Homo sapiens: one gene and its partners. The protein of the gene in region 2 interacts with the protein of the main gene of each other region in a pairwise test. Each region holds a gene or a part of one and is shown on either strand. Other genes may lie near its edges.

Evidence for each region.
Region 1: the proteins of HOMER3 (region 2) and PALLD interact in binary tests that used the Homo sapiens proteins (3 or more experiments, as listed by UniProt).
Region 3: the proteins of HOMER3 (region 2) and POLI interact in binary tests that used the Homo sapiens proteins (3 or more experiments, as listed by UniProt).

Annotation. Positions count from the first base shown.
Region 1 is NC_000004.12:168,495,033-168,498,785, reverse strand, and holds the start of PALLD (palladin), read right to left. Parts: upstream 1,735-3,753; 5' UTR 1,592-1,734; intron 1-1,591. UniProt on the Homo sapiens protein: Cytoskeletal protein required for organization of normal actin cytoskeleton. Roles in establishing cell morphology, motility, cell adhesion and cell-extracellular matrix interactions in a variety of cell types.
Region 2 is NC_000019.10:18,939,722-18,943,474, forward strand, and holds the start of HOMER3 (homer protein homolog 3), read right to left. Parts: upstream 1,497-3,753; 5' UTR 1,330-1,496; intron 904-1,329; exon of another isoform or gene 130-903; intron 1-129. UniProt on the Homo sapiens protein: Postsynaptic density scaffolding protein. Binds and cross-links cytoplasmic regions of GRM1, GRM5, ITPR1, DNM3, RYR1, RYR2, SHANK1 and SHANK3.
Region 3 is NC_000018.10:54,272,474-54,276,226, reverse strand, and holds part of POLI (DNA polymerase iota isoform a (long)), read right to left. Parts: intron 2,302-3,753; coding exon 2,137-2,301; intron 1-2,136. UniProt on the Homo sapiens protein: Error-prone DNA polymerase specifically involved in DNA repair. Plays an important role in translesion synthesis, where the normal high-fidelity DNA polymerases cannot proceed and DNA synthesis stalls. Favors Hoogsteen base-pairing in the active site.

The DNA of each region.
Region 1 (3,753 bases), on a different chromosome or scaffold from region 2:
CTTTATTCTTCTCACTTAAATTCAAAACCTATTTACCAAATTTGCTTCTATATTCTCTAATATGATTTAACAGTTAGAAATTTTAGTCGAAGATACTTTGTTCAATCTTTGTTTTCTTTGCTGTAATTTCACCGGGACACAGTCATTAACTCTAGATGGCCTGAATTTCTAACTGGAGCTCAGTAATTGCAATACCCTTTGACAGCCTCCACACACATATTGTTTAAGAAGTGGAGCTCTTGTCTGGGCCTTGCAGATTCCACTTGGTATCTCTTAAAGAACTTGTCATATTTATTTTTAAACCTGAATAATGATTGCCCTCTACATTTTTAAAAAATGAGGTAAGGAGGTCAAAGTGATTGTACTTGTCCAGTGCAATCCAGATCCTCATTCTATTGTGAAATATGCTATAAGGCCAGTTTTAATATTCAGCTCTAGCAATAACAGAGAAACCCAGAGGAAGAGCTGACACAGAACCCCTGGGATACAGACCCTAATCCATACCAGATTCTAGGATGCCAGAGGACTAATTTATATTCTAGGAATGTGTAATCATGTATTTACAGGGCAGTTAGTGGCCAGATAAACCTCATCGGCCTTTTCTGCTGTTAGCAATAACTTGTCAAAGAGACTTTGATTTTAAAAATCTGAAAAAAAAATCTGAATAATTGAGGTGAGTATTCAAGTTCTTTCTGTGAGAAAAAACATTGGAAGGCACATTTATCATGAAATGAGGATTTAATTTCTGCATATATGTGATTGAATAGATTTGTAATAGTTTTATATTGCCAAGAAATGGCTTTATATGTCACCACATTATTCATACTAGAAGGCAATTAGTATTTTTAGCAAATGTTAATAAGTAATATGAGCCTGAAATCATTTTATGTCAACCTCCTATATTGGATTCAAGACAATTTCATGTGCAACTTAAAACAACATGATAAAAATTATTCTGTGATGTTTAAACTTGACTGGACTCGAGATTGCACTGTGGTTTCCCTTAGTAAGCGTTATCTTATTAAAAATATGTATGTAAATTTTATGCATGAATATAATTTAAAATACCTGCTGTTACTATCCCAACTCATTTAATTATGTCCAGTGAGTTACTTTTAGAATCTTTTGAAAGTGTAATTAACAATTTATAATGTTACTGAAATCTAAGGTCTATCACTTTAAGCCATCATCACTTATCTAGCTTAAATATGGGTGAGGGTCTAGAAAGCTGCGTTTTCCTTTTCTGTGAAACATAACACATACACGATCTTGACAAAAGCTGGCTCCATAAATACATTTAATCCTTTTGGAATTGATAGCACCATCTTAGCATGCTTAAGCTTATAACAGAAAGTGTAATTCTCTGACAGCAAAGGCAGAGATGAAGTGGGCAGGCAAATCTTACGTATTATCTGTTTTTGGCAAAACCGTAACATTCTCATTACGTTTCCTCTCCAAGCAAAAGAATAATTAAGGTATCTTGTAAATAGTATCATATCTTCAGAAAAACTTTTGTATTTTTAGTTTTTTTTTTTTTAAGTCCTTAAAATGTTGCCCTACTAGTTAGTATATTAAGATACACCTTACAGACCTTTTCAATGCTTGGTCAGTTTGAAGACTCCAGAGAGGTGATGAATTTCAGATGAGCATTTCTTCTTTTCTGGGAGAATGGAGGTTGTGGCCTTGCCTATTCATTAGAGACTGCCTGGTCCGTGGTCACTTTGAGGCAACTGTGGCCTCAGACTCTCATCTGTCCTCTTACTCCACTCAGCTATATTTGGTAACTGAGCTCATGTTTCAGCAGACTGCCACGATCAGGAATTCCAGCAGCGGGCTGGGAAGCACCCCCAGGACCGAGGGCTGGGTTCTTAGAAATAAAGCCACTTAACATAGAAGGAACTATATTTATGGATCTGATAAACGTAGGATTTAAACACATTCTTCTATACTTTGGACTTGTAGCTGGAAATCACCACCTGGACCTTTAACATGTTCTTAATCAATTTAAAGTACAGTATGTGACTCCAAGTAGAAAAAGTGATAATCCAAATGGAAGCTCTTCTTACTCTGATCTTCTGTTCTGTGCATTTAAATTTTGGTCATGTGCTAGATTACCCTAAAATAGTAAATTCAGTAACTGAAAATTTAGCCACCTGTCAAATTGAGTGGAAAGTCCCATTGTTCTCTTATTTCATATTGCTAATTAAAAATTGATATATGACTATGGTATGTATTAAAGGCCTTGTCTATAATAGTATTAAATAAGTATGAACACACAGGGACTGGATCTTATCCACATTGCAACATTGAGTTCTTAGCTCAATGCCTAGGACATCATGAGCATCTCTTAAATATTTGTCAAAGAAATAAATGAATGTTGAATGAATAATATTCAGGAAAAGTATCAACCCTCTTACAGTTGCAAAAAATGTTTCACAATCATTTAATATTTTGATCTTTCAAATGACAAATAGATATAGCAAGAGTTTAATATTTTGATCTTTTAAATAACAAACATAGATAGCAAGAAGAGAAAGCTTTTCTGTTTAAAGGTCAGGTAGCAGAATCAAATATAAGGGGGGCAAAAAGAGCAACACAAAAGCTCCCAGTTAACTTGGAAATGGGGTGCTGAGTCTTCCTTTGTCTGGGTAAGACCATCACATTTGATTCAGTTTAATATCTAAATATTTTTTCTTTTCTGATGTTAGAAAATTTGTGAAGGTCTGCTATTGTATTTTCTTTATAGGCCAAACTGGTCCTTTAGAAATGGTCCTTTCTGTGAGTGGATACTTCTGTGGGTCATTTCATCTATTATATTAATTAAGAAGTGATTTTAAAATTTATACTTACGGCTGGGCGTGGTGGCTTATGCCTGTAATTGCAGTACTTTGGGAGGCCGAGGTGGGTGGATCATGAGGTCAGGAGATTGAGACCATCCTGGCTAACACAGTGAAACCCCCTCTCTACTAAAAATACAAAAAATTAGCTGGGCGTGGTGGCGGGTGCCTGTAGTCCCAGCCACTTGGGAGGCTGAGGCAGGAGAATGGTGTGAACCCGGGAGGCGGAGCTTGCAGTGAGCCGAGATCCCATCACTGCACTCCAGCCTGGGTGACAGAGCGAGACTCCTTCTTAAAAAAAATAAAAATAAAAATAAAAAAATAAAATTTATACTTACAAGGAAATATAACTCTGATTGATTGTCTTAGTTTGTGTCATTATAACAAAATGCCACAGACTGGGTAATTTACAAAGAACAGAAATTGATTTCTCATAGTTCTGGAGGCTGGGAAGTCTAAGATCAAGGTGCCAGCAGGTTTGTTGTCTGGTGAAGTTCCTGTCTCTGCTTCCACAGTGATGCCTTGAGCACTGTGTCCTCACATGGCAGAAGGTGGAAGGGCAAGAGGGGGTCAAACTTCCTCCATCAAGCCCTAAGGGCATCAAATCCCATTCATGAGGAGTCCTCCTGAATCACCTTCTAAACGTTACACCTCCTGATACTGTTGCATAGGGGATTAGGAATCAACAAAAATTTTGAAGGGGACAAAAACCTTCAAACCATAGCATTGCTTAAACACATATTTATATCTGCTTTTTCCTAAAACCACAAGATAATAGTAAAAACTGAAAAGGGCAGAAATTGGGAGGGAAGACAATAGAAGATATCAGAAATGAACAAAATTGTTGGAAAGAGATAAATATAAGTATGCATGTAACTAAATTACAAAGCTTAAATGCCTGCAGGAGGAGATACAG
Region 2 (3,753 bases):
GGCCAGAGCGGGGCTCTCCACCAAAAAATGGGGCGTTGAGAGGTGTGTAGTACCAGGAGACCAGTTCCCCACTACACCCTGCAGAGGGACCCCACCCCCAGCAGCTCCCACCCTAGGGCAGAAGCACACCTTGAAGTCCAGAGTCCAAATCCCCAGGGAGCCCCCAGCCAAGTTAAAAAGACAAGATGTAGACAAACAGCCAATCCCAATGCCCACCATGAGGGCAGAGCAGAATCCACACTGGGAGACCAGGGCTCCCCAACCTCCCCATTGGGCCATTCAGCAACCCCGAATCTGCAGGGGACCAAGGAGGAGTTTGGAGGAGGGGGAAGACAGGTGGGGGAGGGGAGGCCCTGGCCCAGCGGCCTCTGTGGTCAAAGGGGGGATGCCCCCCCTATCCTGTCCTGGGCAGCTGCTGTCCTGGTCACAGGGTCTGAAACCGGAGCCCCTGAGTGGGGGTGGGGCGGCAGCTCTGGCCTGGACTGGGGGCGGGTCCTGCGCCGGGTGGGAGTTGGGGAACACAGGGGTCCCCGGAACCCAGGCCCTTCCGGTCCGGCAGCTCCTGCTGCGACTTGCAGCGTTTGGGGAAAGTTACTCACCAACTAGTCATGCGCCTCGGATGCCGCCGGCCACGGGGCTCCCGGAGGGGGGTCCGACACCGCCCGGTGCCCGGGATCCCCAATCTGGCCGGTGGATGAGGCCCCATCCCATGCACCCGAGTGCGGGGGACGGGGGGGTTAATATTAATTCAGGATCCCATCCCCACCCGAGGCAGGACACCCAGTGCACGCCCCAACTCCGGGACGCGGGCTCTGACCCTGGAACTTCCGAGATTCCCGCGACGCCCCCTGTCTCTGGGTCCAGAACTTCGGGGGACACCTCTTCTGCCTCCTCCAACCCCAGGTCGGTAACTCCGGGGACTCCCTTCGTGACTCCTCCTCTAACTGGGTCCGGGACCCCGGTCCTCCGCGTTGTCCTAGACTCCTAAACTTCGAGGACCCCCTGCCACCCCTCCAGTCCCTGGGTCCGGGACGTCCGGACCCCTCCCACCCCAGTACCCCACCCCAGGTCCGCAGCTTTGGGGACCTCTTCGCAGCCTCCTCCAACGCCGGGTCCAGAACTTTGGGAACCTCCCACGCAGTCCCCTCTCAGACCCTGAATCCAGAACTTCGGGACCCCCGCGCTCCCTCCAGCCCTGGAACTTGGGGACCCCTCGCGCCGCTCCCAGTCCCGGGTCCGAAACTTCTGGGGAACCCCCACGCCCTCCCCTTGGCCCTGGGACTTCGAGGCCCCCGCGCTCCCAGCGCAGGCTCGGCAGGCCGGGCTCACCCTGCCAGGTCGGCGCCCCGCGAGTGTCCAGGCGCGAGTCGGGTGCGGCCCCCGCGGCGCTGACTCCGCGCTGCCGGGCGCCCCGCTCGCTCCCTGGCTCCCGGGCCCGCGCCCTCCGCGCCGCCCTCCACGCCGCCCGTGCCTTTGTCTGCGCCGCCGCCGCCCGCGCCGCCTCCGGTCCCATCGCGGCCGGTCCCGACGCGGCCGCCGCCCGCCCCGCCTCCCCGGGCCGCCAAGGCCGCCCCGCTGCGCCCCCTGCCGGCTTTTTGCACTGGGAGAGGGTATGGGGGAGGGGATAAGGGGGAGGGGCGGGGGCCGGGACTGGGGAAGGGACGGAGGATTGAGGGAGGGGGTTAGGGGCGGTGGAGGGGGAGTGGGGGGGGGGGTTGCGTGGGGTCGGGTTGGGAGCAGAGGGTGGGGACAGAGAGACAGACGGAGAGGGACATCTGGGATGAGAAAGAGACCCAGAAACAGAGACACGGGGGAGACAGGCGGAGAGATAGGAAGCAGATGGAGAGAGTTGCACGGACAGCGATGTGACCTCACCCTCCTGTCACCTTCTCAGGAGACAGCTGCCTCTGTCCCCACTACCTGAGGTCATAACTTTGGGCCTGTGAGGGAGGTCAGGTCCCTCCCGGGCTGACATGGGTGGCCCAGTGAGGTTGGGGAGGGGGCAGTGGGTCTCAGGGTCTGCATACAGTAAGTGCTCAATGGGTGTTGCCAGGAAACGGAAGAGATCAACTTCGGGAGGGAACGGGAAGCAAGACAAAGAGAGAGAAGCCTCTGTTCCCCTGCCCGTCCCATCCCTAAGCAGGGACGTCTGTCCACCTCTGTCCCTCCCAAGACGATGGTAAAAATGCCCACAATGGTTGGATTAAGGTTATCTTTGCTGTTGTTTGAGGGTTCCAAAATCCAAAGGCTGAGGAAATGTCTCCAACGCATGGTTGCATCCCCTCAGCCTCCACTGGCCTGCGTTTGTCACCTCTGGTCACAGGGAGCACCCCCTTCCCACACTTGCCAGGAGAGCATCCTTCCGGAGTTGAACTAGGATCCACCTCCCCAGCCCCAAGCCCATGTGTCCCACTTGTCAATCCTGGTGCCGCCCCCTCTCTGGCACCGTCTCCAAAATCACACGGTGCGGCGCCGTTGGTTCGTTTGTGGACAGAGGTCCTGCAGCTCCCTGGAACCAAGGCCTGTGGCGCCCTAAAGCTCTGATCTTACATTTGAGTTTTTCTTTTCTTTTCTTTTCTTTTTTTTGAGACAAAGTCTCACTCTGTTGCCCAGGCTGGAGTGCAGTGGCACAATCTCGGCTTACTGCAGCCTCTGCCTCCCAGATTCAAGCAATTCTCCTGCCTCAGCCTCCCGAGTAGTTGGGACTACAGGTGCATGCCACCACACCTGGCTGATTTTTGTATTTTTAGTAGAGATGGGGTTTCACCATGTTGGCCAGTCTGGTCTCGAACTCCTGACCTCAAGTGATCTGCCCCCCTCGGCTTCCCAAAGTCCTGGGATTACAGACGTGAGCCACCACACCTGGCCGACACTTGAGTGTTTTGACAACTTCAGAGAGGCTTTTGCTTTTCATCTCCAAGACCTCTGCTCCTGTCTCCTTTCCCTGTTCCTTTATTTCTGTTTCCTTCTAAGAAGAATAGTATATCTGAGCTGGCGGTTACATTACATTCAAATTACCTTTAGGTGAATTCCAGGTCAGGTTGTTTTTGGAGATTGACTCCTGCGCCAAGATCTGAGTCTTCCCCCATCCAGGCCTTTGCCCAAACTGTTCCTTCCACCTGGAATGCCCTCGCTGCAGGCATCTCTTCTGCCTTGTCCTTCCAGGCTCAGCGCCACCACCCTGTCTCCTCCTCCAGGAAGCCTCTCTGACTACCCTGGCCTTGGAAGGGATCTTGCCCTCCCCTGTCCCAATCCCTGTGACTCTTTTTTTTTTCTTTTTTAAAGTTTATTTTTAGAGACGAGGTCTCACTATGTTGCCCAGGCTGGTCTCAAACTCCTAAGCTCAAGTGATCCTCCCACCTCGGCCTCCCAAAGTGCTGGGATGACAGGTGTGAGCCCAGACCCTTTCTGTGACTCTTATGTTACCTGTTTATTACATGACCAGGTCTGGGTGCTCCTCTAGGGCTGGCCCATCCATCCTGAAGCCCCAGTCTGACCCAGCACAAGAGCGACTGTTCATCCCACAGGGGAAACTGAGGCACAGACTCGGTTTCCCTGGCTGCTTCTAACTTCACGAGGCATCTGCACAAGGGAAGGATTTGGCTCTGTTCTCAGGCCGGAAGCCACGAAATGCTTGAACATTGTGGGGAGCAAAGAAAATACCGTCTGTTCTGTGCAAAAAATGACTTTTCCTTATTACCAACAAAATAATGGAAAAAATAAAAAAGTATCTGGGAAAGGTGCTGGCATGGC
Region 3 (3,753 bases), on a different chromosome or scaffold from region 2:
CTTTTTTTTTTTTTAACTTTTGTAGAGACAGGGTCTTGCTATGTTATATTGCCCAGACTGACCTCAAATGATACCCCACCACAGCCTCCCAAAGTGTTGGGATTACAGGCATAAGCCACCATGCCCAGCCTCCATTCCTGAAGTTAACCTCTTTCTTGGTATCAACTTCATAAGCAAGATACATTTATTAAACATATAATTATATAGGGCCCAAAAGAGGAGTCTGTAATTACAGAAAAAAAAAATACCTTGAAGAAAGGTATATATGCAGTAGCATCAAAATATGAAATAAATAATAAGGTTATAAACAGATCAGAGATAAATACAGTAAAGGACTAACTGGCTACGCGCCTACTTCAACTCAGAAAAATACTGTGAGAAAAATTGATAAAGTAACTTTTTTCAAAAAATACCTAACACAAAAAGTACTAGGTACTTAGTACTTAGAAAAAGATGAACAACCCAAATTAAAAACAGGTGCAAGTGAATACGTTAACAGAAAAAAATACATAAATGACCAAAAATATATGAAAAAATACTCAACCTTACTCATGGAAAACTGCAAATCAAAACAATGATTTACTCTTCTTCATCTATATGATGAATATGAGAGGAGGCATTTAGGCCATAATTTTACACATTTGGAAAAACATGATACATGACTTTGTACCTTGCCTTTTATTCACTCAACAAGCCCTATCTCCATCAGTCAAATAGTATTGCACCAATGAATTCTTTTTAATGGCTATATAATATCCATTATACAGATGTTTTAGTTTATTTGGCTATTTCTCTTGATGGGCATTTTTCCTTCCATACTTTTGACAATCATAAACCATGCTATGATAAACATTGTTGTACATATGTCTTTATGTACTTGTGGTTCTCTTTCTTTTTTAGAGACAAGAGTCTCACTCTGTCATGCGCACTCAGGCTGCAATGCAATGACACAATCACGGCTCACAGCCTCGAGCTTCTAGGCTCAAGCAATCCTCCTACCTCAGCTCCAAAAGTGCTGGGATTACAGGTATGAGCCACAATACCCAGCCTTATGATTTTATTTCTATTTGATAAACTCCCAGCAATGATATCACTGGATTGAAGAACATTCATCTTTAAACTCAGTAAGTGTTCTTGATACTTTTTTCTCACATTGCTTTTAATTTTGGGCAAGTATGACAGATATAAAATATCTTACTAATTCAAATTTCCTTGGCCACTAATGAATTTGAGCATTTTTTCCCTATAATTGTTAGACACTGGGTTAGGCTCTTCTTGTCAACTGCCTATTCATATCCTTTGTCCTTTGTTATTAGGTTTATTTTTCCTGTTAATTTCTAAGAGGTCTTTGTATATTATAGACATTTAATCCAGTCATCTGAAAATTGCTATCATAAAAGAAAAACAAAAAAAGTAAAAAAGACAAATAATTGCAAAGCTGATCATTATACATTTTTACACTATATATTAAGTAATTGCGGTTTTCGCAATTAAAAGTAATTGTGAAAGCCACAATTACTTTTGCATCAACCTACTATATTTGCAATGTGCCAGTGCACACTCATTTTCATTTTTCCTGTAATTTACTATAACACTAAGATTTAAACCCAAACCTTAGCATAGGAAAGTTTAGCTACATTGTAATATTTAGTATATATATAAAACCTAAGAAAATATTAATATATCCAATATTTTTATTAATATTTCATAAGAAATCAGTTTTTAATTATGTTGATCAAATGTTACAGAAGCCTCTTTCAATTATCATTAGTGCATTAGAAAACAACATATTTCTTCGTAATTCATTTAAACTTAAAATTTTAAAGACCTGGCATCTTTTACAGTACAGTTTCCCATTTTCTCACTTTTAAACTTTGTTTTCCACTTTTCCCTGTTATATAAACATCAATAATAAGAGTTAAAATTACTTCCAACTATACATCTTCTTAAAAATACTATTCATAGCATACAGTTATCCTTTCACATAATTTTTAAAGTTGACAAGACCCAAAATAAGAAGTTATTAGGAAAAAGCATCTTGACTTATGTTATTTTACATTTATTAAAAAATTCATGTAATGAACAGGCATCCTACATAAAAATTAATGCTAAAAGTACATTGCTTATCATTTGTACCTGTAACCTTATAAGACATTTCTCTGTAGCGGGTCAGGTCTTCTCCATTAACTAATACCAACTGTGGACACTTTTCTTTTGCATCTCTGACATTCATAAGTTTCTTAACTCCAAGTTTCCTAGCTTCATAGTTGCAGGTAACCACCAAATATTTCTGTTGAACCCCTGTAAAAAATATTTTATGAGAAACCCAAGCACAATTGAAGAAAACATTTAAAGATATTATTAATTCCGTATTACATTTGTCTAAATTGTAAGACAATCAGTTTTGATAAGAATCAAAAGCCCTGTCTCAATTAAAAAACATAGCCTCCATATATCAAATCTCTATAATGCAGAAACATTAGGTTTTCAAGCTATCTCCTAATTATGAATTATAATATACCAATGTATTATTTTTCCATACCCCACTTTTAATCTCTAGTTGTTTTGTCTCCTTGAAGAAGGAAAGTTATTATTAAATAACAAAACACTGAATAACACAGAATTAAAAGTTAGACGATAGATCAATTATTCATATACAAAAGGCAATCTATGTATTACATTTCTAAAATTTAAAAATGAACCTAAATCAATATATTCTATGGAATCTTCAGTGATAAGATACAAATCAAATCTCTCTAGGATTTTTTTCCAGACAATATAAAAGCAGATTAATTTATACTGCCATATAATAGGGCATGTTCTACCAAAAAAAAAAAAAACGGATGAAAATAATTGAGTACAACTAAATACTGGTTGCTGCTAGAAAAACTCAACTTCTCTTCTCCGTAACTTGCTAATATAAAGCAATATAAAATATAATATGTATATAAAATATATAAAACAAGTGCTGGGCTACAGCAATTTTTAGGGATCTAACAGTTATGTACTACTTATTGAACTGTTCTATCAAAAATGATTAAATTATGATCATTTATTTACAGACTGCATAAAAAATTCTAGTTTATTGGTGACTCAAGATTGCTAAAAATTATTTGCTCTTTTTTTATACAAGTTGACTACTTGCTTACCACTGTAAGAGTAATGTTCACCTAAAATATGTAAAATACAAACATGTAGAAAAAAAAGGTTATGTCCACTTCTCTATTAGACATTGTTTCTAAAATTTTGATATCATAAACAACATTATTTTTATATAAAGTTTTTTCATATATCAGGTAATGCCCAAAAATATAATCATGGAACCAAAGGTAATAATAATTTGAGATTCCTCAGTGAACTACATAAAAAATCAGATTGCTAGATTTCTTAACTAAAAAAAGGAGTCCTTTAATAGAGCATTACATTATATGGCCTCATCACTGCATGTCACTACTGGTCGGGCACGGTGGCTCACGTCTGTAGTCCCCGCACTTTGGGAGGCCAAGGCAGGTGGATCGCCTGAATTCAAGCATACGAGACCACCCAGGGCAACATGGTGAAACCGTCTCTACTAAAAATACAAAAAAATTAACCGAGTATGGTGGCGCACACCTCTAGTCCCAGCTACTTGGAAGGCTGAGGCAGGAGAATCACCTGAGCCCCAGAGGCAAAGCTTGCAGTAAGCCAAGATCGCACCACTGCACTGCAGCTTGGGCTACAGAGTGAGACCCCTTCTCAACAACAACAACAAAA